7 linked regions of the Homo sapiens genome follow. The protein of the gene in region 6 interacts with the protein of the main gene of each other region in a biochemical or structural test. Each region holds a gene or a part of one and is shown on either strand. Other genes may lie near its edges.

Evidence for each region.
Region 1: the proteins of TBPL1 (region 6) and FRMPD4 interact in a test that uses a peptide from one of them, tested with the Homo sapiens proteins (one large-scale study listed by IntAct).
Region 2: the proteins of TBPL1 (region 6) and GIPC2 interact in a test that uses a peptide from one of them, tested with the Homo sapiens proteins (one large-scale study listed by IntAct).
Region 3: the proteins of TBPL1 (region 6) and FRMPD1 interact in a test that uses a peptide from one of them, tested with the Homo sapiens proteins (one large-scale study listed by IntAct).
Region 4: the proteins of TBPL1 (region 6) and SHANK1 interact in a test that uses a peptide from one of them, tested with the Homo sapiens proteins (one large-scale study listed by IntAct).
Region 5: the proteins of TBPL1 (region 6) and RAPGEF6 interact in a test that uses a peptide from one of them, tested with the Homo sapiens proteins (one large-scale study listed by IntAct).
Region 7: the proteins of TBPL1 (region 6) and MAST1 interact in a test that uses a peptide from one of them, tested with the Homo sapiens proteins (one large-scale study listed by IntAct).

Annotation. Positions count from the first base shown.
Region 1 is NC_000023.11:12,141,473-12,144,972, forward strand, and holds part of FRMPD4 (FERM and PDZ domain-containing protein 4), read left to right. Parts: intron 1-3,500. UniProt on the Homo sapiens protein: Positive regulator of dendritic spine morphogenesis and density. Required for the maintenance of excitatory synaptic transmission. Binds phosphatidylinositol 4,5-bisphosphate.
Region 2 is NC_000001.11:78,080,466-78,083,965, reverse strand, and holds part of GIPC2 (PDZ domain-containing protein GIPC2), read right to left. Parts: intron 3,292-3,500; coding exon 3,106-3,291; intron 1-3,105.
Region 3 is NC_000009.12:37,730,954-37,734,453, reverse strand, and holds part of FRMPD1 (FERM and PDZ domain-containing protein 1), read right to left. Parts: intron 3,471-3,500; coding exon 3,351-3,470; intron 2,151-3,350; coding exon 2,014-2,150; intron 982-2,013; coding exon 855-981; intron 725-854; coding exon 629-724; intron 1-628. UniProt on the Homo sapiens protein: Stabilizes membrane-bound GPSM1, and thereby promotes its interaction with GNAI1.
Region 4 is NC_000019.10:50,664,303-50,667,802, forward strand, and holds part of SHANK1 (SH3 and multiple ankyrin repeat domains protein 1), read right to left. Parts: coding exon 1,890-3,500; intron 1-1,889. UniProt on the Homo sapiens protein: Seems to be an adapter protein in the postsynaptic density (PSD) of excitatory synapses that interconnects receptors of the postsynaptic membrane including NMDA-type and metabotropic glutamate receptors via complexes with GKAP/PSD-95 and Homer, respectively, and the actin-based cytoskeleton.
Region 5 is NC_000005.10:131,432,730-131,436,229, forward strand, and holds part of RAPGEF6 (rap guanine nucleotide exchange factor 6), read right to left. Parts: coding exon of another isoform or gene 3,222-3,500; exon of another isoform or gene 3,032-3,221; intron 930-3,031; coding exon 701-929; intron 1-700. UniProt on the Homo sapiens protein: Guanine nucleotide exchange factor (GEF) for Rap1A, Rap2A and M-Ras GTPases. Does not interact with cAMP.
Region 6 is NC_000006.12:133,987,578-133,990,932, forward strand, and holds the end of TBPL1 (TATA box-binding protein-like 1), read left to right. Parts: 3' UTR 1-2,855; downstream 2,856-3,355. UniProt on the Homo sapiens protein: Part of a specialized transcription system that mediates the transcription of most ribosomal proteins through the 5'-TCT-3' motif which is a core promoter element at these genes. Seems to also mediate the transcription of NF1. Does not bind the TATA box.
Region 7 is NC_000019.10:12,862,515-12,866,014, reverse strand, and holds part of MAST1 (microtubule-associated serine/threonine-protein kinase 1), read right to left. Parts: intron 1,207-3,500; coding exon 1,068-1,206; intron 970-1,067; coding exon 837-969; intron 700-836; coding exon 534-699; intron 299-533; coding exon 197-298; intron 36-196; coding exon 1-35. UniProt on the Homo sapiens protein: Microtubule-associated protein essential for correct brain development. Appears to link the dystrophin/utrophin network with microtubule filaments via the syntrophins. Phosphorylation of DMD or UTRN may modulate their affinities for associated proteins.

The sequences.
Region 1 (3,500 bases), on a different chromosome or scaffold from region 6:
TTTTGACTTTTTAGAGTGTCTACATTTAACTATTCGTTTCCAGAATCTATACCCTTTTAATCGTGGGAAAAATCAGAATTGACAGTGCCCCTCAATAACCCAGTACCATTAAAAAAAAATTGCTGCCAAGTGTTGGAATTGCTGGTAAGTAGTTGGCACCCTTTACATCATCAGTTAGAGTTATGACCCTTGATTGCATCCTTCGTGGGTGGCACAGTGTGTCATGGTTCTATCTGAAGATGGTTTTTCCCGTTCTTCTAATTTTCTGGTTCTTAAACTGCTTGATAGTTTACATGCAGTTTTACTTCACTGTTTCCTTGGTAACAGTTCTATATTATTTTCCATCCTTGTAGATGAGAGCATTACAGATGATTGCCTTATAAACCAGTAATAGTATAAAAACAGGCATATATTTTTATTGTTACTGCTCTTTGTATTGACTATTTTATTTGTAAAGCAGATGCATTCTTTCAAATGTTTATAGAAGAATGCAGTCCAGTAGAAAAACATATGATTATGCCCCTTTTGCCAGAGGGAGATGATTTGAGATCCAAAACTCATAGGGATGTTATTAAATTGAGTGATATGTTCATAGATTAAGTCCCTGATTTGGCTTCTTTTCTTTAAGCAAAACGGTAGACTTGATGATAATGATTGAGTCCCCACTGTTGATATGATGATTTCTTATAGTAGTAGGTAAATTTGGGGAATGCTTTACTTTGCATTTTCTTATAGTTGCATGGGTTATTTTGTGGTATATAGCAGTGACTAATATCTAATATTAGAATGCTAATTTTCTTACAAGTATCTTATATTTGAGGAAAAATACAAAATACATATGTATAGTTTCCTTAGATTTTTATGTCAAGTCCATTTAGATACTACTAAACTTCTGTCTTTTACCTTTATCTTATTCAGAATTAAATATTTCCCAGGGAAAAGGGGAAGTTAAAGAAGTAATGCAAAAGGTCAGGGTTTTTCCCATATCCCCTATTTTTACTGAGTAATTGTATTAATATTGCTGATAATAGTGAGCTCTGGAGGCTAGCAATGAAAAAACCCCAAAGACTCTGGATTTGAATTTTATTAAAAATGCTACTTGCTCATCTTCTGAATCCTTTCTAAGTTCTGCTGATTTTTGTGACTGTCAGGAGGTGAAATGATGAACAGTTTCATAACAGAACTAGATTCCTGTTTTAGGAATATTTAACTCTAGTTTCCCAAGAGTTGCTAGTTTGAAGCTGTGAAAGTCTAGTCGCTCGCAGTTCTGGGAAGAAGGCGTCTAGGTCAGGCTTTGTACCATTTCAAGCATCTCTCTCTCTCTCTCTTATTGTCTGGGGCAAGTGAGTTTCACCTTCTTGCTATCAGAATTTGGTACAGACTGACAGCTGCAGTGAAACTTACTTGTACTTTAAATGCATGACCTGGAAAGTCTCACTTTCTGCTTATGGTCCTTCCAGCTGTTCATTCTCCCCCTTTACATACACATACACTGTTCAACTTTAGTACTTTGTTATTTCATTTGAGGTTAACCGTGGAAGTTTAGCTGTAAGAGAATGTACATTATTGGTGAACTAGAAATGTATCTTTAAGGAATGAACTTGAAACCACTGGTTTCACACTTGGCTCAATAAGAAAACTCAAGACCGTTTAAAATCTTTGTTTAAGCATACCGTCCTGAAATCTACCACTGTTACCATCAAATGATCTTTAATCTTGAAAGCTAATCATAGCAGGAAAAGAAAATTATGAATAGGCTAAAACAGGGGTTGGCATACTGTGGCCTATGAGCCAAATCTGGCTTGCTGACTGTTATGGCATAGCCTGTGAGCAAAGAATGGTTTCTTTATTTTTAAATGGTTCAAAAATATCAAAAAAAGAATAATATGAAATTAAAATTTCAGTGTCCATAAATAAAGTTTTATTGGAACACATGTCCATTCATTTATGTATTATCTATGGCTGCATTTGCCTGACAACAGCAAAGTTGAATAGATGCCACAGAGACCTTATGGCCTACAAAGCCTAAAATATTTACTCTCTGGCTCTTTACAGAAAAAGTTAACTGACCCCTGGGTTAAACAATGCCTTTTTCCTGTTTTCTCTTCTTTATCATTAGCAGCACACATGTGGGCACACACATGTCAAATCGAGCATATTATAATAAATACTTGAATTCACTGACCCCTGGGTTAAACAATGCCTTTTCCTGTTTTCGCTTCTTTATCATTATCAGCACACATGCGGGCACACACGTCAAATTGAGCATATTATAATAAATACTTGAATTCACTAATGCACATTACCAGTTAATATAGACCTTATCTTTATTGAAACTTCTGATCTCAAATTACTTCTTGAACTGTTGGAAACTGACCATTAGAAGTGGACATAATTGTCCTACTAATTTGTTGCACTTGGAAAAATTATGCATGCTTATTCTTTGGTCACTAAGTTGACCTGATATTTTTGGGGAGCTGGAGAGTTGCTTGTTAAGGTGATGTTTGCCTTCCATAAATATCCAGTTCAAAATGTATGGAAAAAGAATGGGTGATACTACTTGTATAGCCTCAACCAATGTGTGCTGGTGAACTGATAATCAAGTCAACAGGAGAATGCCTAGTATTTCCTTACAGTACACTTGAGCCATCTGGTCCTAATGGCTAATGACCTTCACTAATCTGTTTCCAAATGGAAATAAAACCAGATAAGTGGATTTAGTTGTAGTCAGAGGAATGGAGGTAGGCTGTATCAATTTGGAGTTGAGTTTAATCTAACTTTCCTATGATTTGACTGAGAGCATTATAATGAGAAATCATAGACTACCTTTAGTTCTTTACAGCAAAAACATATATCAAAAGTATGCTGCCTTGCTTCTGAGTAATTTAGGTCATTATGTACTTAAGCTCTGAAAATTATCTTGAAGAAATCTAAGCCTTAGTTTTAGATAACAAAGTTAACATTCCCATTTTTTTTTTTTTCCTGGCAAAGAGATGAGAAGGGTTTTCTGCCAGAACTGTTCTTTCAGAAATATATTTTCAAGTATGGTTTACAGAATTTGGCATAAGATAAATAGTCTATACTAAATAATTAGTGAGTGAAGTCATATACAATTCATTCTAACATTTGTTGCAAACAAATTGTCATATTTGTTTAGCTGAACAATTACCATGTCAGTACTTCTTTATTGAATATAACGGAATACAATGTACATGTTAAAAGTAAATAGCCTGCTCTTGGACTTGGTCTCAGAGAATAAACTTTTATTTCTGTTTTTACATTTGAAGTATATATATATTATATATATAAAATATAATATATATATTTGGTGATTGATGGTTAAAAAGTCATCAACTTGTATTTCCAAGGAGTCTCTGTTTTACTGCTTTAAGCTCAATAAGCAAAGTTATGATGATATTGAAATGGGTTTTTATAGATGTCAGTAAGTTTTTATTTTAGAAAGTCTTTTTTGAAAGCTAGGAAAACACAATCATTTCTAT
Region 2 (3,500 bases), on a different chromosome or scaffold from region 6:
ATCAATCTCTAGTAAAAATCAGAGCTTCTGAGAGAAATAGTTGATTCTAGGTCAGGGGAAAAGGAGATACAAGATGGGTCTAGAATATCTTGTTGTGTTCTAGAAAGTAAGAACCTACTCAATAAAATGATAGGAGCCATGTCAAAAGGACATGGGGGCCCACTTACAGGGGTTCCTGCAGGCCAAGTCTCAGGAAATTTGAGCATCAATATAATTGATAGTAACAGACTATAAACCATTCAGTAAAACACGAAGTCATGTACCCATGTTGACAATAAATAAGGGCAGCTTTTTCCCTACCATAAAATGCTTTCAGAGAAACATATAAGGAGTGATGGAATTAGAAAAATCATCATTTTTTCAACCATTATAGGAAAAATTAATTCAGGTAAGACTCATCAACAGATACTAAATTTGTGCCATGCAAGTAAGAAAACAGGGTATTTTCATGATATCAAAGCATCTCTCCACAATTACGTATCACAAAGGAAAATAATTTTGTAGTGAAAAAGACTAGTGGACACTACCTCAGACAAGTGACAAAAGTTAATCTCACAAACAATGAGACAAACCAGTTTCATGTACCTTCTGATGTGGTGCACTGAGAAGGACACAGCATCACTTATGTAATTTTCCTACCAAAAATGCACAATCTATTTATCAACATGAGGAAACATCAGAAAAACCCAAATTCAGGGACATCCTATAAAAGGCTGAGGAACTATTCTAGATTAAGGAAGACTAAAAAGACATGACAACTATTCTAGATTATAAAGAAGACTAAAAAGACATAAATGAAATACAGGATCCTAAATTGGACCTGTATGAGGGGAAAATAATGAACACAATTAGGACGCTGATAAGACTACAATGTGAACTATAGATTAGTTTAAAAGTATTATATCAATATTAGACTGTATGAATTTCATAATTGTACTGTAGTTATATGTAAGAGAATATCCTTGTTCTTAGTAATTACACTCTGAAGTACTAAGGGGTAAAGAGTATATATATATATATGTGTGTGTATGAGACAGAACAAAAAACTCAAACATGGCAAATGGTAAAAATTGGAGATTTGGATAAATGATTTATGGGAGTTCTTTGTATTATTATTGCAATCTTTATGTAAGTTTGAAATTATCCTCTCCCAATTTTTAAAAAATTTCATCAACCATGTATACAGTATAATGTGCATCTCTCTTCTAAGTTGAACTATATGTTGGCAGTTTAGATTATGCCTTGCTTTCTCCTTTGCTAACATGCCCTATATCTCCACAGGGCTAGTGACTAGTACTCTGAGTCAGGCACATGTTTGACAAAGCATTTTTTAAAAAATAGAAAGACAAGCTCTGAATGTCAGAGGCTAAGATTTTAAAAATCCACACACGTTTGTGAAACTTCCAAGCCCTTCTCTGCTGCCTGTGCCTCATGTCCTGAGCTTCCCTTGGATAATCCCATATGACTTTCCCAGTCACAGATTTTCCATTTGGTCACTCACTCAACCTTCAGCACAGTCATATCTTTTGCAGAGCTAAAAATAGCCATTCTATCAAGTGGGTAGCGAAAGTCCCATTTACAGTTAAGAAGATAACTTCCCTAAGATTATTTAATGGTGACAATGCATCAGCAAATCAAGATTTGGACAAAATAAAGGCACAAAATATTCCCTGTTGCATGAAATCTATCATTAATTCTTAATCGAGTGAATAGAAGTGCCAGCTCTGAAGTCAGACCTCATAGATCCAAATCCTGAATGTGTCCAGCTGTATAACTTTGGGCAAGCTACTTAACCTTCCTGAGCCTGTTTCCACATCTGTAAAATAAGGTTGGAAATAGTACCTATCCATGGATCTCATAGGCATCTTTTTGAGCAAAAGAAGCCGAAAATAGTGGAGTATATAATATATGATTATATGAAGTTCATGGCAATAGATGCCAGAATAATGGCTACTTTGCGGGGAAAGATTATTGACTGGGAAGGGGCACAAATGAGCCTTCTGAGTGGCAGAAATGCAATTTATCCTGATCTGGGTGATGGTTAAACAGGGATAAGTATGTAAACATTCATTAAGCTGTACATTAAAAATGTCTTATACTGCAACAAAAAAATAAATACAAAGAAAAAACATAATACCAACCAAATAGAATTGTGAGAATTAAGTGAGAAATTGTATGCAAAGTGCCTAGTACATGCATTCAATATAAGTCTGTTACTATTATAACTATTACAATAATAGAGTTGTTATTTTTAAGAGATGAGACTACCTTTCTCCTCAGTTCTTAGTTTCACACCATTTCAAACTTTTATCTTGCCTTTGAAGCTCTATATCGCTCTCTTTGTATTTGAATAAAGGAATTACAGTTGGCCCTGGGTATCCATGGGGGATTGGTTCCAGGACACACCATCAATACTAAAATTCCACTGATGTTCAAGTCCCTGGTATAAAATGGTGTAGTATTTGCATATAACCTATCCACATCCTTCTATATACTTTAAATCATCTCTAGATTATAATACCTAACACAATGGCAATGCTACATAAGCAGTTGTACTGTATTGTTTAGGAAATAATGACAAGTAAAAAGGCCATACATGTTCAGTACAGATGCCATTTTTTCAACTACCTTTAATCTGTGGTTGGTTGAATCCACTAATACAGAACCTACAGATACAGAGATCCAACTTTATATACTTCCTAAAATTTTGAAGGGCATTTTTAAAGAAGTAAATAAGGCAGTCAAAACTAGGAACAGTTGGAAAATAACACTAATTCAATGGAAATAAGCCAGAAATTCATCAGATGTTAAAACCTACAGACATGGAAAAGCTTATATGGATAATGAGTAGGCACCAGGGTTAGACTTTCCTTTCAGTTAGTTCTAAATTCTAGGGGAAGTTTAAACTAAAGGGAAGAAATTAAGAAAATAGTAAACACAAACTGACATCTGAACATTTTTAAAATGAAAGTGAAACATTACCAATTCATGCATCCTTGCTGAGCGGGCTCTCACTCTGAAGATCATTTCTAACTTTCTTTGGCCTGGTAGATTTTCTTAAATGTTATCCTCAATTAGGTTACACTGTTATTTTTTAAAACTTACCTTTATAAAAGCATAGCCAACACCATTATCTGTAATGGTGAGACCAAGTGAATCCTCAGATTTATACACATTCACTTCTTTTTCGATTCCTTTCACATGGGCAAATATGAAATCTTCTAGTCCTAGTTGTCCTCCTAAGAGTCTTTCCATGTCAATTTTAGGTGTGTTTAAAGTGCAATATAAGATCTGCAAAGAAAAATAAAATGTCAGGTCCATTTCCACTTGGAATACATCTGACCGTTAATTTATTTATAAACATTTATTGACTGAAATACTCCTCAATTTATGATGTAAAGAGTTACATCATAAAATGTGTTTTTATGTTGGCTAGAGAGATTCTGGGACACATTTTCAGACAGTAGCATTAGGTAACATGTATTGAGGGTTTCCTGTAG
Region 3 (3,500 bases), on a different chromosome or scaffold from region 6:
GCAGGAGAATGGGAAGAGAGCAGAGGGCTTTTCTGCTTCTCGTTTCTCTTCTCAGGCCCACCCCTCATTCCTCCCTTCTGAACAATCAGAGACTCAGCTTGGCAGTCAAACACTCTTATTTTTCTTTCATGATTTCCAATTTTCCTCTTCACCTTCATATACCCAAAGCTCCAGAGTGAACTGCTTACCATCCCCTTCTGACCCAGAATGCCTTTTCCTCTCTACTGAAGTCTGGCCAAATTCAGGCTTCCTCTTGCCTCTTTCCTTAACCCCTTCTCCTCCCTATACTTACCCTGAAGCAAGCAGTGCTACCTTCTGTCTCCAAACTCCACAGCAATAGGCCTGAACCTGTCTCATGGCTTTGCTTCATTTTGTTGGGTAGCTTGTTTCATCCTTCAAGGACGGAAATCACATCTTATTCAGCCCTGCTTCCCCTAGCATCTATCACAGGGGTAGCACCAAGCAAACGCGTGGTAAATATTTTCCAGTGGTGTACTATTTAGTTTACCAGACAAATTCTAGTACATGACAGAGTCCTCAGGAATTTTAGGCTAAAAGACACATTGATTTTCAGAGGATCTCTAAGGTCCCTTACGTGAGTAGGATTTCACAGTTCTCTAATACATACCATTAAAGTAGCATTAAAGATTCTTCCACCATATGTCTTGAGTTCTCCGAGGATCTGTAGATAATTTAAACGTAGCTGGGCAGCAGAAATAAGTTGCTTAATAGAGAAAAAAAAACACTTGAAGTCAGAGTTATTCATTGGTCTAAAATCCAGGCAGTGTTGAAAATGTTTTTCCTAAGGTTTCACAGACGACAGCTGAGTGGGTCGGCAGAGGCACCTTCATTACCTTCTGTCGGGGTTCCAGCAAATTCTGGTTCCTCTTCATGTGGAAGCTAATGGCTTTCTTGATGTCTTTGCCTTTCATGTTTCGGAGTAAAGTTGGAGATATAAAGTTCTCTATTCCCCAGTCTTTCCTGCCATGAGACATTGGAGACAAGGAGGCCCATTTCTACAGGGTACTTGGCTCTAATGAAGAGCATAATTACATTTGATTCAGTACTTAGTGTTCCCATAATACAGCAATTACGAGCCACTTTCTCCTCCTCTCTTTTTCTTTCTCACACACACATACACACACTCTCCACAAAAATCCCCACAGGCATTCAGGAACTAAACCCCATTGATCATTCTGGGAGCTCATTACTCTTGGTGTGGTGTGACCATCTATCAGTCAGAGCAGGAGTTCTGAATCTTTTTCACTACAAAATACATGGCAAATAATGACAGCATACAAGAGAGTACAAGACACTCTCATGGGGCAACGCAGAGCTCCTGTGAATCCCCTAGGCTAAGCTTCAGCATGGTGCCAGCCTAGCAGCTTCAAAATCCCCCAGAAAATTGCTAAAACTACAGATTCTCAGGCCCTGCTGCGAGAGATTGGACTTAGTACATCAGGGGTAGGGCCAAGGATATGCTGTATTTTTAAAAATATGATTCCCCATCTGATTCTGATGCTCAGGCAGGACAGAGCTGAGATCTGGGGAGGGGCTTAGCAAACCTGAGTGATGCTGTCCAGAACAATTCTAAGCTAAGAATCAGAAGGTGCTGGAATCGTAGGACTTGAAACTGCTCTAGTGGAGACATAATGCAATAGGAACTGGTTCATATCCACGGGAAAAATTAACTTCCAAGGCATTCCCACCCCTAGAAAAGCTTAACACTGATGCTGGCAACTGATTTCCCAAGACATCTTCCCAGGAACAGGCAATTTACAAGGGAATCCTGTGACATTCCATCTGGAGTTGGCTTCTGTCCCAGAGAGAGCAGCCAGGTTCAGACATCTGGGGGAGCCAGGTCAGATTAGAGAGGGTGCAGAGGGAAATGGATGGAAAGACAACAGACAGATGGGTAGGTGGGTGACTATCAGCTTTCTGTGGCATCTGGCCCTCCTGGCCAGGGGCCAGCAAGTTATAAATGCAATGCAGCTGCCATCCCCTGCCACTCACTCTATATACTTTAAAGAGATCTTCTGTGGCTGGGCACAGGCGTAGATCCGTTCCTGGATGTGCAGAGCCGCGAGTCGGAGTGCAGAGCTACATTTCATTTCTACAGCAAAGCGCTCCTGGAGCACATCGCTGCAGCTCTAGAAGAGATTAAATAGAGCAGATGGGAAACAAAAGCAGACATACTGTGTCCCCTCGTTCTCTCGGGTGAAAGGCAGCAGGACCAGGAGCTCCGCTTTGAGAGCTGGCTCTGACAGTTCTTGGCTGTGTGACCTTGGTTAAGTTACCAAGACTCTCCAAGCATTTGGTGTCTGGTAAATGAGGATAGTAAAATCTACCTTATGTGGTTTCTGTGAGACTTAAATTAGATAATGCATATGAAAGCAGGTATAAGGCACACAGTGTTATACAAATATAAAGTATTGATGGCGTTGTTATTGCTATTATTATTATTTTCTGCCACCATTTCTGTAAGACTTGGGGCAGTCCAATCCACCTAGTCTGAGTTATCTCATCTGTAAAATGGTGATATCTGCCAAATGATTCTTTTTCTTTTTTTTTTTCTTTTCTGGAGACAGAATCCCGCTCTGTCACCCAGGCTGGAGTGCAGTGGCATGATCTTGGCTCAATGCAAACACCACCTCCAAGGTTCAAGTGATTCTCCTGCCACAGCCTCTCAAGCAGCTGGAACTGTAGGTGTGTGCCACCACGGCTGGCTAATTTTTTGTATTTTTGGTAGAGACGGGGTTTCACCATGTTGGCCAAGCTGTTCTCAAACTCCTGACCTCAAGTGGTCCACCTGCCTCGGCCTCCTAAAATGCTGACATTACAGGCGTGAGCTACCGCACCCGGCTCCAAATGATTATTTTTCATCAGAATAAAAATGGCATCATAACTCTCATCTAAGGAGGTAGAATAGGGGGAGCACCAGGCCACGGATCAAGAACCAGGTTTTGGCTCTGCCACTAAGTGAGTGACCCAGGCAAATCACACGACCTTTCCAAGACTCAGTGTCATCATTCTAAAACGAGGTTTTAAAGCACTAAGGCCCCTTTTGGCAATAAAAACTGTAATTCTAAAGATCCTAAAATGGTATTAGAAAATGTATCATCTACATTGAGGACTGAGCCTGAATTTCATTCTGATATCGCACACCTGCTAAAACAGCAACTCAGTGATGGAAAAGGGAATTCTGAGCGATGATCAGGCCCATTCTCCTTCAGATAAAGAGAATCCCTACCAGGGAGTTGTTTAATGGCCTCGAGCTCACGTTCAAAATCACCCAGTGCACCATCTTTGAGAACAACCACTGTTATTTTAGGAAGCACAGACCCAGTCACCTGCAGATAGAGGTATTCAAAGGCCACGGGGTCTTCTTTCAGGAGGTCCAGGGGGTCCTTGGGAACAAAACAGACCCTGAAGAGGCAGCGGTAGTCATGTGACTCCTCCCTTTCTACCACCTGCGATGGGTAAGGGAGATACTATTAATC
Region 4 (3,500 bases), on a different chromosome or scaffold from region 6:
AGAAATGTAACTCTACTTTCTCTAGGACTAGAAGGTCTTGAATGGGCTCGAATTCTGCGACGATGCAGCTGACTGGCTGCTCTGGGAAGCATCTGCATCATCCCGTATTTCCCCACGTAGAAGTTGCTGGGCTCTTGTTCGAGGCCCCCTCTTCCCCCATCCCATGTTACAACAATGGCACACACTAAATCCTCTCAAAAACTCTTTGGGCTGGCACTAGGCCATTCCACTTCTACAGAGAGGTGGATTCATTTGCCTAAGATCACCCAGGTAGAAAGTGCAGGGTTGGGACTGGAAGCTGAGAAGGTGGGCTCTAGAACCACACCTATAACTGCATCCTGTCTTGAACCACACTGGCTTCAAGGGACTCACAGATTTCAGGGACTGTCAGAAAGAAGTGGCAGCTCACCAAGGAAACAAACATAAGCAGGTCTCACTCCAGTCTCCTTTGTTAATAACTTTTTTTTTTTGAGACGGAGTCTCACTCTGTCACCCAGGCTGGAGCACAGTGGTGCAATCTTGGCTCACTGCAACCTCGGCCTCCCGGGTTCAAGTTATTCTCCTGCCTCAGCCTACTGAGGAGCTAGGACTACAGGTGCCCACCACCATGACCGGCTAATTTTTTGTATTTTTTTTAGTAGAGATGGGGTTTCACCGTGTTAGCCAGGATGGTCTCGATCTTCTGACCTCATGATCCACCCGCCTCAGCCTCCCAAAGTGCTGGGATTACAGGCGTGAACCACCACGCCCAGCCTGTTAATAACTTTTTGTTCATCATGGGATGTAGGTTGTGATGGTGATGGGCAGAGACAACAGAAGCTACTGAAATAAATGGAAATTTAAAGGCTGGACCCAGTGGCTTACACCTGTAATCACACTTTGGGAGGTCAAGGCAGGAGGATCACTTAAGCCCAGGAGTTTGAAACTAGCCTGGTCAACGTAGCTTGTCTCTACAAAAAGTTAAAGAAAAAATGGCCAGGGCCAGGCATGCTGGCTCATGTGTGGAATCTCAGCACTTTGGGAGACCGAGGTGGGATGAATCACCTTAGGTCAGGAGTTCAAGACCAGCCTGGCCCACGTGGCAAAACCCCTCATCTCTACTAAAAATACAAAAATTTGCCGGGCATGGTGGCGGGCACCTGTAATCGCAGCTACTCAGGAGGCTGAGGCTGGAGAATCGTTTGAACCTGGGAGGCAGAAGTTGCAGTGAGCTGAGATTGTACCACTGCACTCCAGCCTGGGCAATAGAGTGAGACTCTGTCTCAAAAAAAAAAAAAAAAAAAAAAAAAAGAAGAAGAAAAGAAAAATTGGCCAGGCATAGTGGCGTGCACCTATAGTCCCAGAGGATTGCTTGAGCCCAGGAGTTTGAGGCTGCAAGTGAGCTATGATTACACCACTGCACTCCAGCCGGGTGACAGAGTGAGACCCTGTTTCTAAAAAAAAAAAAAAAGCCAGGCATGTTGGCTCATGCCTGTAATCCCAGCACTTTGGGAGGCCAAGGCGGATGGATCACCTGAGGTTGGGAGTTCGAGACCAGCCTGACCAACATGGAGAAACCCCATCTCTACTAAAAATACAAAATTAGCTGGGTGTGGTGGCATGGGAGGCTGAGGCAGGAGAATCGCTTGAACCCGGGAGGCAGAGGTTGTGGTGAGCCGAGATCACGCCATTGCACTCCAGCCTGGGCAACAAGAGTGAAACTCCCTCTCAAGAAAAGAAAAGAAAAAAAAAAAAAGAAAAAGAAAATATTTGTGAAAGCATGCTTCTGTGACAGCAAACTCCTGCCAACCTGGTTTCTGTTTCCTTTCTGCCACCCTGAGACCCTAAAGGGACACAGCCATGCCATCAACACCTCTGGCCTCCCTTGTTGGCCACCAGCCCCCGCTTACCTCTGCCGCTGCAGGGAGGAGGTCCTCTCGGGGACATAGCTGGCTCCCCCGTGGTGGCTGTCTCCGCCTCCCCCACTGCCTCCTCGGGCCCAGGGCAGAGCGCCGCCAGCTGCCGAGGAGCCCCCAAACTGCTGAAGCTTGGAGCTGAGTTCACTGATGATGCTGGCTTTTACTGTGGCCAAGGCTGAGGCCTGAGGCTGGGCCAAGGGCCCGGGCAGAGGTGGTGGCGGTGGGCCCGGGCCCTCCTCCCAGGGCAGCAGCTTCCGGGGCAGAGAGGAGGCCGTCGGCAAGGGCACCGGTGGGACTTCTGGCTCTACAGCCACCGGACCCCCCGCCACGCCTGCCGTGGGGGGTCCTGAACAAGCACGCAGGGCCAGCAGCCCATCGGTTCCAGCCCCTGTCACCGAGACGGTGGGGCTGGTGGGGGTAACAGGGTCTCGGAGTCCCCCGCTGGGGCCAGGCCGCAGGCCTCCGCTGGCTCCTAGCGCCCGGCCCCGGAGCTTAGAGGGAGTCATGAGCTGAGGAGGGTATGGCGGGCCGGGAGTACTGCTGCCCCCAAAGGCCTGGCCGTCCAGGTAGGCCACATAGGTGTCCAGAAGCTCCGGCCCACTGGCCACACCGGCCCCAGCCCCGCCCCCACCCCCTGCGCTGCCACCACCTTCGGCAGATAGGCTGCTCAGCGTGGAGGCGCTGCTGATGGTCTCCAGTGGGTGGTCACTGCTGCTCCGACTGTCCACCTCCTCGATGCCAGAATCCGTGCCAGGCGGAGGGTCCGGGCCAGGCTGTGGGGCAGCGGGAGCCGGTGCTGCTGGGGCAGGCGGGCCTGGTGGATGGGGGTCCCCAGGAGCGGCGGAGGCCCCCTGGGTCAGGGTGGCCACCTCGCTGTCATAGGATGTCAGGCTGGATGCGGTGGAGTCCAGGGTGGGAGGGGCTGCGGCCACAGCCGGGGGTGGCACAGGGGGTAACGGGGTGGCAGGGGCAGGTGTGTCGGGCAGCGGGTGGGGAGGCCCAGGCGTGAGGGGCGACTCTGGCTTTTCGAAGCTGTTGGAGAATTCCAGAGGCGGAGGCAGCGGTTCCACGAAAAGGAATTCGCCATCTTCCACATCCACCGAGGGGGCGGGAGGCGGCAGGACCAGCAGGGGCAGCCCGTTCTCTTCGCTGGCCCTCGGGGAGGTCGGGGAGGGGGGCACGGACCGGCGTGGGCTGGGCGGCGGGACCCCCGGCCCGTCCTCCGAGGGGGGACCCCTTCCGCTCGTCACAGGGGCCCGGGGCTGGCAGTTTTCAAGGAACCGCACGTGCAGCGGCAGCCGCTCGGGTTCTTCGGGGGCTGCGGACCTCCAGGGCTTGCTTACTCCGGGGTGCGGGGCCGGGGGCTCCGTCCCCAGCTGCAGCAGGAGGGGCCCCACCCCGGGAGCGGTGGGCGGCAGGCGGTGTAGCAGGGAACGCCGGGCGGCGGGCGGGCTGGCGGGAAGGGACTTCTCCTGGCTGCCCAGCCCGGCCCTGTACCCCAGCTCCCGGCGCGCAGGGTCCGGCGGGGAGGCCCCCCAGAGACGCAGCACTGGCTCGTGGTGGGCGTGGGGCGAGTGGTGGTGCGGGGTGGGCGGCGGGGCC
Region 5 (3,500 bases), on a different chromosome or scaffold from region 6:
ACAGAGGCCTTATGGCCTGTGAAGTCTAAAATGTTTACTATGTAACTTTTATAGAAAACATTTGCTGACCTCTGGTGTAGAGATCCTAGTTTAGAAATCTTTATAAATGTGGTAATAATTTATCTTAAATTTTTCATATTAAAGTAGACCAGATTTCACAATATTTATCAGTTAGAATAAACTTTCTCAAAGATTTCCACGTTGCTTGATTCTAAATAGAAATTTAGAGTTGATTTTTTTTTTTAATTAACCTTTGCTAGGTGATTATTCTTACTCCCCAAATTACACTTTCAGAGGACAGAGATCAAGGGCTAGTCCTACTCTCCCAACCTGTCTACAATGTGCACAGCACTCGAGGCACTTTCCAAAACACAACCTTTTTGATTAACCTATAGCCAGAATTTCAAAAATTATCTCCCCTATATAAGTAGCAGATGCACTTTGAGTTCTGACTGGAAAGATACATAATGATAAAAAGTTACTTGAATTTAGTAACACTTTAAAAATGAACACCCATACATCTTTCAACATAGTGCTTATTTACATATTCAGAATAGAGAATATGTGCTTGGCCCACATATTCTTTTATGGATAACTCTGCAATTACCCCATGGGAGGTCCAAGGTCAAGGTGGGGAGCACTCCTTGCAGTGGCCACTTGGCTTGGGTTTTGTGTTATGAACACAGACAATGATGCTTACCCAGGGCCATGTTGACTATGATCTCCTATCCCTGAAGCGTGCTCTGTCTTTTCCAATGCCCCAGTGGATTCAGGGACTGCCAGGGCCTGAGAGGAACACCGTTCATCCTGTAGAGCTGCAGACATGGAGTCAACAGAACAATTGCTCACGATGCTGGACCGTGAAGAAATCTCACTATGGCTGGAGTCAGACAAGTTGTCAGATTTAGCTGATGGAATAAGTGTGTAACCTGAACAAGAAAAGAGCACTGATCAAACTACAAAAAAAGGGAACATATGGTGGGGGTAGTAGGGGAAAGGATGAAAAAAAAAAACCCCACAAAAATAACAGAAGACAAAGTAGAAGCAATTTTAGTTTCCATCTATGTAGATATAATGGTGCCAATTTTCTCCACACATTCCCCTACATAACCATTTGCCTACTATCCACACCACACCAATACAACTACACATTCAAGAAAAAGACAGTCAAAGTCCAGTGTTACTCAGAAAACTAGTTTAAAGGTATATCTTTCTCAGGCTCTCCCACAGCTATAATCATTTAATAAAATAAGAAGATTACAAATATTAATAAGTACATGTCTTTAGGGTTTCTCAACTTCTTTTTAACCCAACGCTCCTTCCTTTGATTAATATGAATATTTCTTGACCTGATCTGAATCCCAAATACCATCTTGAAGTAAGGGTAGGGGTGGGAGTCCAGGACTCAAGGGAAAGAACTACATTTTTGCTTTATCAAACTATATATACTTACCCCATATATTCTGCATATCCCACCTAAGAAGTCTTGTCTTGAGTTGAGAGTCACTGTTTTAGATTATTTTTATTTTTTAGACACAGGGTCCTGCTCTGTTGCCAGGCTATAGTGCAATGGCACGATCATAGCTCACTGCAGCTTCGAACTCCTGGGCTCAAGTGGTCCTCTTGCCTCAGCCCCAAGTAGCTGGGACTACGGTCTGCACCACCACACCCAGTTATTTTTAAACTTTTTGCAGAAATGAGGTCTCATTATGTTGCCGAGGCTGGTCTTCAACTCCTGGCCTCAAGCGATCCTCCCGCCTCAGCCTACCAAATTGCTGGGATTACAGGTATGAGCCACCATGCCCAGCCTGTTTCAGTTTTTTAAATTGTTTTAGGTTTAAACTTAGTGTCATACTTAGTTTCCTTTTTCTTCACCAACCTTGCAGAATATTAAACAGCTGAGTGGATACATGTTTAATAATGTGTTATAGAAAAAAACAGCATCTACATGTTCTATGTTGTTCTGTGACTTACTGCACAGCAGACAACTAGAGAGATGTTCTTCTGTATTCTAGGGACGCACTGAGGTGAAGGACCCAAAAACAAATCTGCAACAGAATGGCTAATGTACATAATAATCTATTTTGATAACTGGAAGAAACCAAATTTTTGTTTAGAAATAAAAGAAAAAGAAAATGCCCTAGTAATCCCAACAAGGGACGGGTCTCAAAGAAGTAAAAAATATCTTCTTGCTCACAGAGGAAAGTAGGGTTTAGTAGATATGTGACCTTTGGACCAATACCTAGAAATGTCATTAGGAAGAATTACAGGCTTTGGGTATGTTACTGGAATTCTCAGGGCCTCATCTTCATGCAGAAAGAGGATGACAACATCCTTAGTTCCAAGTCTTTCTCTGTTTATGGATCTTGGAGTTATTCACATATAACTCAAGTCATTTAAGGAATAATTTGTTGCACAGTAATCTTATTAAGTCGTTTCGTTAACTATTTCAAAGAGAAAAAGGCCTAGAAAATGTGTGATTTATATTTGGCCTACGTGGACAGGAACAGGGTAAGCCAAGACAAGCCAGTCTTCTGACGTCTATCATACATCTCTGAACTTGGGATCACTGCTATTTGTCAATGTCCATGAGCTGATTAGTCAATTTTTAAGAGGACCAAGAAAGTGGATGTAATAAGTAAATTAAAAATAAATAAAAACCTTCTTCTTGAAAAGAAAAAGTCATTGCTCTACACAATAATCTTGCTTCATTGTTTAAAAAATAATTTCATTCTTATGTCTATTTGATCAGTATTTCTCAAATATAATAATACTAAGAACCACCTGGCAAGCCAATTAAAATAAACATTCCAGATCCCATTTCTGGCAATTCAAGTTTATGAAGTCTGGGGTGGGACACAGTAATTGCATTTTTTAACAAGTTTCCCAGATGATTCTGATATTGCTATGTTAGACTAGTCCCTTCTCCCCCAATCAAAGATACGTAAAAAGTAGAAGATAAAAAAGCCTCCTCTACATATTTCACTCACAGATCCAGCTAACAGTAGGAAATAAAGTCAACTACAGAAAACAAGAGTATAAAATTTACTAACTCAATACATCAGTAAAATAACTTATGTACAAATGAGGCATTTTCAAGTGTTTATAAATAGTATTTTACTAAGTTGTCTGCCTAAGCTTTGACAAATGGTTTAATTTAAGCCATGTATACATTAATAACTGAAAACAAACTTAACACTAAAATTAAATAAGGAACTTCATCAGAGTGTCTTCCTCCTTTTAGACTTGAATCGCGTATAGAAGCAGTTTAAAGTGTTACTGTTGCCTTGGCTATTTGAATTGAAGATGGCACTCCCTTTCTCATCTTTGATGTTGCTTCCAACATCCTTCACTTTCTCACAGCTTTCTGTAGCTTGATTGTGATCTGTGTCCTCTTTTTGGCTGTTGACTAGTCTCTCCCTTGAAAGCATTCTTTCCCTAAGTCTTCTAAACGGGGATGTCATTCTTTTTCTGGTTGTGTTCTCACAACTTGTCCTGTC
Region 6 (3,355 bases):
CTTAAGACTTTGGCTAAAGTGTGTTGGCTTCTTTTTGAAGTGTATTTTGTGTGTGTGTGTGTGTGTGTGTGTATATATATATATATATATGCACCACATGTGTATAGTATCTTTTAATGCTCTGTTACCAAATAACAAATAGGAATTTTTTTTCTTGCAGATTAGAAATAAAAACGTGTATATAAACTCTAGGGAACCAGACTAGAAGTTTATAGATAAAGGATAATGTTTTATGTTGCTAATTTAATATGATAGAAAATGTTAAATAACTTGTAAAGGTTAAGAAATTGTAGTTTTAAGAAGAGAAACCTCTTACCCACTAGATGGAAATGAGAAAGAAGCTGTGATGAATGGTGCCTCATTTGGACCTTTGTTTTTCTGGAAAGACTCAACACCTGTAGTTGTAGAGAAGTGATTGAGGTTCTTGACTTTAATCTTGGGTTGATGCCCAAGCCTATACTAAGAGTCTTGTCAGAAGTTGGTAACATGGAGATGTTTTAACAAGAAGTGCCCATAAGCTGCCTCTGTGCCACAGTGTAATTATCAAATAGCCCCACTTGAATTTGAAAGCCATTTTGTGTGATACTGTCCTTCCCCTTGCTGTATCTTATTTAATGGAGTTAAAGAGTGACTATTCAGTATATGAGATTGCTACTCTTAAAGTTATAATAAATATGCATTTATGAAACAGTGTCTCTGGCTCACCCAGGAGCCCTGATGTGGTAATACAGGATCAAGCTGTAGTTGTGCCCTGTCATTTAGGTTTAGGAGTTTAGTGTAACCAACAGTGATTATACCTAGAAATAAAGCTGAGTGGAGAGTCCAATTAGCTTCTCAGGAGAAACTTAATGGGGACAATATTCCAACACAATGTTCCACAAAAACTTGTATTTCCAAAATGTTTTTAAACCTTTGTGGAAAAATTGCAACATCCTAATCTCCATATATAGTACATTTTCCTTACTGTATTATAAAATCTTGAAAACCTAGCTTAGGCACTGCACTGAACAACACATATTATTTTTATCTTTTTTCTTCTCAATGCCTTCCCTAACCTCCTGCTTATTCCAAAGTGGAAAGCAAAGGCTAACTTACATTTTTCCTTCTTGTGAAATATTTCATTGAGATTTTTAGACTTGTATTTTTCCTTTTTTTTAAAAAAAAAGTGTTTATTTCCTTTATTTTAAGATTCAGTAGGATAGCCAAATTCATAGAGAATAAAATTACATGAAAGAGTTACAAGCTCACTGTTTTAAAGACTTGACATTTTTCATTTAGTTTTAATTAACAGTAATAAGTCACCTCCTGTTTTTCAATGTTCACCAAAAAAAGAAACATAGAATAGGGGGAAAACATGCTTATATAGCCAAGGTACAGATCCAGATGATGTAACCTTTTTAGTATTCGCATGACTTGAAAACTGGGCAGATCAATAGATAATCGAAGTGCTTTATCTGAAGGGAGAGGGTAAAGACAGTGTGACCAGGTTTGTTTTCAGGGCTGCCGAATGAGCCTCACCTAACAGTGTCCATGGGTAATTCGCTAACCTTAACAAAGATGGGAAGAAGTGAGTGCTCTGATGTCTTCTGCTGGCTCTCCATAAGTACTGTAAATTTTTTTTATAAATAAAAACTGTGAATATATATGTACAAGTTGTAAGTATTTCCCCCTTTTTATTTTTGAAAATCAAGAAGCTTGATTTGGTGTGGTGCAATGGATATTGGATAAAAATTTGAAGACAAAATTGTTTAGTTACAGACTCAGGATAATAAAAGAAAAATATAAAAGAATGCTCAAGATACTGAAGTCAAGGTCACTAGTAATAAACTGGCTAGGTTGATAAACAATTTCCTGCCCATTTATAATGAAGGGCTAAACAAAAAATACCTGAAGTATATATAGAGTTTGAACTATAAACACGGAAGGAAACATGGGGCAGAACACACTTCCCTTCTCTTTCCAAAAACAAAAAACAATGCATGCTCTGATTTGCGTATGAAATACACCATGATAGAATTGAGATCTCCAATCTCCTTTCCTTTTAGCTTCCCCCTGCCAATTTTTATACAGATAATACACTGCAGATCCAGGCCTTTTAGTCAGTCTCCTGAGTCTCTGATATAGTTTTACTACTTACATAGGTTTATAGTCTCTCCACATTGTTATAAAGGAATGTAATAGATCATGTTTCCTTATATGACATTGGGACAGTTTGTTAGGAACCAATAGGAAAATTCCAAGCTAAATAAAAAGGAGCTTTGGCTCTTAGGATTCTCTTTTCTTCAGGTTAATCATATTTTAAAATTCTTTTTCAAGTTAGGTTGTTCGTGCTTTTAAGTTTTTTGTGTGTCTTCCATCACTTAAATATTAGTAATTTAATATGTTATTTGGTTCAAGATTTGATTGTGGATTTTCTATCATACCCAAATTTTATTAGTAAGACCTCTTAACAAGTCTTTAAAATCAACTGGAGAAGTAAGAGAACAGTTCATCGTTGTGTGGGTGAAACCCACGTTGCTGGTACAGGTGGCCATCATAGAAAAGAACATGAGGGAATTGTCCTGATGTCTGAATGTCATTTATTGTGTCTTCAGTTATCTGAACATCATCATCAATTATAGCCTGTGTACCGTAACCTGAGGTAGTGATATTCCTGAGGAGTGTGAAGAATTGGACACTGTGGATTACTATACATTGTCATGAAAGCCTTACAAGGAGGCAGCTTTTCTAGGCTTGACTTAATAACTTCAACCTAATTGCTTAGAGATTTGGATAAATAACCTAATGGCCTGACTCCTTTTCTAATGTTTTACTAACAGCTACTTCTAAATAAATATGGTCCCAGGATTTTAAAATTGTCTTTTCTATGCATTTTTTAAAAATGGAAAAAAATGCTCATTTTTCTCAACTATTGTGGAATTATTTTAATATTTCACAATATTAACATGAAATTCATAAAAGGATATTTTGCATTAAATTATAGTTTATAGTTCATAAAATAAGCTCTATAATCTTTATACTTGTTGAATGTAACTAGGAATTACCACTAAAATCCTAGCCAGGACCCTCTCCTAATCTAGATAGAATATATGGGCAGTTGTCCACACTGTGTGTTCTGGTTCTTTTTTGCGTAAGATCCAGTGCAAGTAGTGTCTTGGTAGGCAGAAACTGTACCCTCATGTCCAGACCACTTGTGTGTCTGCATAATAAAGCTGCGACTGGCCTCCATACATACATAGCTTAAGGCGGAGGTTGATGTCTTCACTAGGACATAGTCTATTCAAAGGCTGCTCTGTGAAGAAGGTAGAAAGTATTAAACCAGCCAGTAACTTTTTTTTTTTAACCTGATATCCTG
Region 7 (3,500 bases), on a different chromosome or scaffold from region 6:
AAAGAAACTGTGCTGCTTCACCTCAAAAGCGCCGCCTGGGACGGAAGGGATTCCAGCCACAGCTGATGGCCAACCCAGCAGCCCAGCCCCGCCCCCCATGTCTTCCGCCCCGGGGCCACAGCACAGGCTGGGCCTGGGGTTTTGGAGGCCTGCTCTCTATCAGTGGGCCCTCAGCTCCTCTGCATGGCGGACTTACCTGCCCCAAGCCTGACCAGAGGGTTGGTCTGCAGGAGGCTGGATATGAGGAGTTGGGCCTCCGTAGGTAGGGCCTCATCCCCCTCGGGCCACAGGATGTCATCTGCAAAACAAAACGGAACTTAGGGGCGGTTTTTGTTGTTGTTGTTGTTTGGACACAGGATCTCACTGTGTCACCCAGCTGGAGTGCAGTGGCACGATCATGGCTCACTGCAGCCTTGACCTCCTGAGTGCAAGCGATCCTCTGGGGGGTCGCTTTTGAAATCCCTGGAACCCTGAGCCTGTCCATCTCTCCGTGCACACCACACTCTGCCCCTGTACACTGCCAAGCCACGTACCACTGATGACCTGTCCAAATAGCTCCTCTGGTGTGTCTCCGAAGAAGGGCACACAGCCCACCAGGAACTCGTAGAGGATGATCCCCATAGCCCACCAGTCCACTGGCTTGCCGTAGCCTTGACGCAGGATGACCTCGGGCGCGATGTACTCTGGGGTCCCACACACCTGGGGGCAGGCTGTCAGCCCACGCCCCAGCCAGAGGAGGGCCCTCAAGGGAGAGCTGTGCCCCCCACCAGGCCCTGGGTTCCCGAGGTCCTGCAGGGTCACTCCACCCTCAGCGACCCCCATGCCCGCACACACACCTGTTTGTCCAGGAACTCTCGGGCGTCCTTCTCGATGTGGCCTTCATATAAGTTGGTGGTGAGGCTCATGAGCCCCATCTTGGAGAGGCCGAAATCTGTGAGCTTGATGTGACCCATGGAGGTGATAAGGAGGCTGTAGGCACAGGTGGGGATCTCAGGGATGAGGCCCGTCCATTCTGCCTCCTGGCCTCCCGAGGGACAGAGGGAGTGATGGGAAAGATCAAAGCTCACTTGTCAGGCTTGAGGTCGCGGTGCACGATGCCATAGTTGTGCAAATACTCCAGGGCTAGCACCGTCTCAGCAAAGTACATGCGGGCCATCTCTACGGGCAGCGCTCCAATATTCTTCAGCAGGGTGGCACAGTCGCCGCCTGCAGGCCAGGAAATGGGCCCGCATAAAAAGGGAGGCATTCCTCTCTCTGGACATGCACCATAGCACCAACTTCTCATGTTATGTTGTACCCGTTTTATAGATAAGGGAAACTGAGGCTCTGAGAGGGGCCTCCCTCCCTCCAGGTCCTCTACTGGGTTCTTCTTGTCCTCTTAGCCATCCTCCAAAGTTGGTGTCATCAGCTCATCTTATACACAAAGGGATGGAGACTCAAAGAAAGGATGGGTCATGCAGGCAGTTGTTGGTAGAGGTGAGGTTTAGTTGGGGAACAAAGGCTACCCACTTATCAACTGCATCTGGAAGCACAGCCCTCTATCTCCTGGTGTCTGAACCTTGGAGCTGGAAGCCTTAGATGCAGATTCTTGGTCTTCACTAGATTTTTTTTTTTTTTTTTTGAGACAGGGTCTTACTCCATTGCCCAGTCTAGAGTGCGGTGGCAAGATCACAGCTCACTGCATCCTCAACCTCCCAGCTCAAGCAATCCTCCTGCTTCAGCCTCCTGAGTAGCTGGGACTACAGATGTGAGCCACCATGCCCAGCTGATTTTTAAAAAATTGTTCAAGGCTGGGCATGGTAGCTCACGCCTGAAATCCCAGCACTTTGGGAAGCCAAGGCGGGTGGATCACTTGAGGTCAGGAGTTCGAGACCAGCCTGGTCAACATGGTGAAACCCCATCTCTGAAAAAAGAATACTAAAGTTAGCCTGGCTTGTTGGCAGACGGCTGTAATCCCAGCTACTCGGGAGGCTAAGGCAGAAGAATGGCTTGAACCTGGGAGGCAGAGGTTGCAGAGATCCAAGATCGCACCACTGCAGTCCAGCCTGGGTGACAGAGCAAGACTCCGTCTCAAAAAAAAAAAAAAAAAAGTTTTTTGTAGAAACGAGTTTCATTGTGTTGCCCAAGCTGGTCTCCAACTCTTGGGTTCAAAGGATCCTCCTGCCTCAGCTTCCCAAAGTGTTGGCCACTGCCTCTGCCCCTCTGCCAGATTTACTGTAATTGGCATTGGTATTTCAGTTTCTCAATATCTATTTCCTTTTTATCCTACAAAGGCTAGATTTCCTTCCATGTGCAGCAACCGGGGCAGTATGTAACCCAAGTTGCTCCAGTGAGTTAGCCCTTGGAATTTTCACTCTTTTCCTGTAAGAATTGCTAAGCTCATAGAATGTAAGCTGAGATCTGCTAGATGGCAACCTTGCTACATGAGGGCTTGTCTAGAAGGAAGCCCACATGTGGGAGTACAGAGCCAAGAGATGGAGAGTTTCCTGATGGAATGGTTTGAGCACCTACATCCAGCCATTCCTGAAGGTAATATTGGTTTTTCAATCACCAATGACCAAGAAAGCTAATGATTTCTTTCTTTTTTCTGTTCTCTTTTCTGCGAGATTTTGCTGGTTTCAGAAACTCTCTGAGGGTGGGGCCCAGGAATCTGCATTTGAGCACATCTATTGTGCACACAGACCCACCATAGAGATACTGATTTGGCCCCCTTCTCTCCTCCTCCTCTGCAATGAACCTGGACTAGAGCAGTCATCTACCTCCTAGTCTCCTGATTCTGCTCTCTCCACAAGAGCCAAATGGATTATCTTTTCTTAATTTTTTTCTTTTTCTCTTTTTTTTTTTTTTTTTTTTTTTGAGTCAGAGTCTGGCTCTGTCACCCAGGCTAGAGTGCAGTGGCTCCATCTCGGCTCACTGCAACCTCTGCCCACTCACCGCCCCCGGGTTCAAGAGATTCTTGTTCCTCAGCCTCCCGAGTAGCTGGGATGATAGGCGTGCACCGCCACTCCTGGCTAATTTTTGTAATTTTAGTAGAAACAGGGTTTCATTGGCCGGGCACAGTGGCTCACGCCTGTAATCCCAACACTTTGGGAAGCCGAGGCAGGCACATCACCTGAGGTTGGGAGTTCGAGACCAGCCTGGCTGACATGGAGAAACCCCATCTCTACTAAAAATACAAAAATAGCCAGGTGTGGTGGTGCATACCTATAATTCCAGCTACTCAAGAAGCTGAGGCAGGAGAATCGCTTGAACCCGGGAGGAGGAGGTTGCGGTGAGCCAAGATCACGTCATTGCACTCTAGCCTGGGCAACGAGTTTAGCCAGAGCGAAACTCTGTCTCAAAAAAAAAAAAAAAAAGGAAAAGAAAAAAACAACAACAACAGGGTTTCACCATGCTGGGTAGGTTGATCTTGGACTCTTGACCACAAGTGTTCTGCCTGCCTTGGTCTCCCACTGTAAGTGCTGGGATTACAGTCGTAAGCTACTATAATGGGCCTCCAA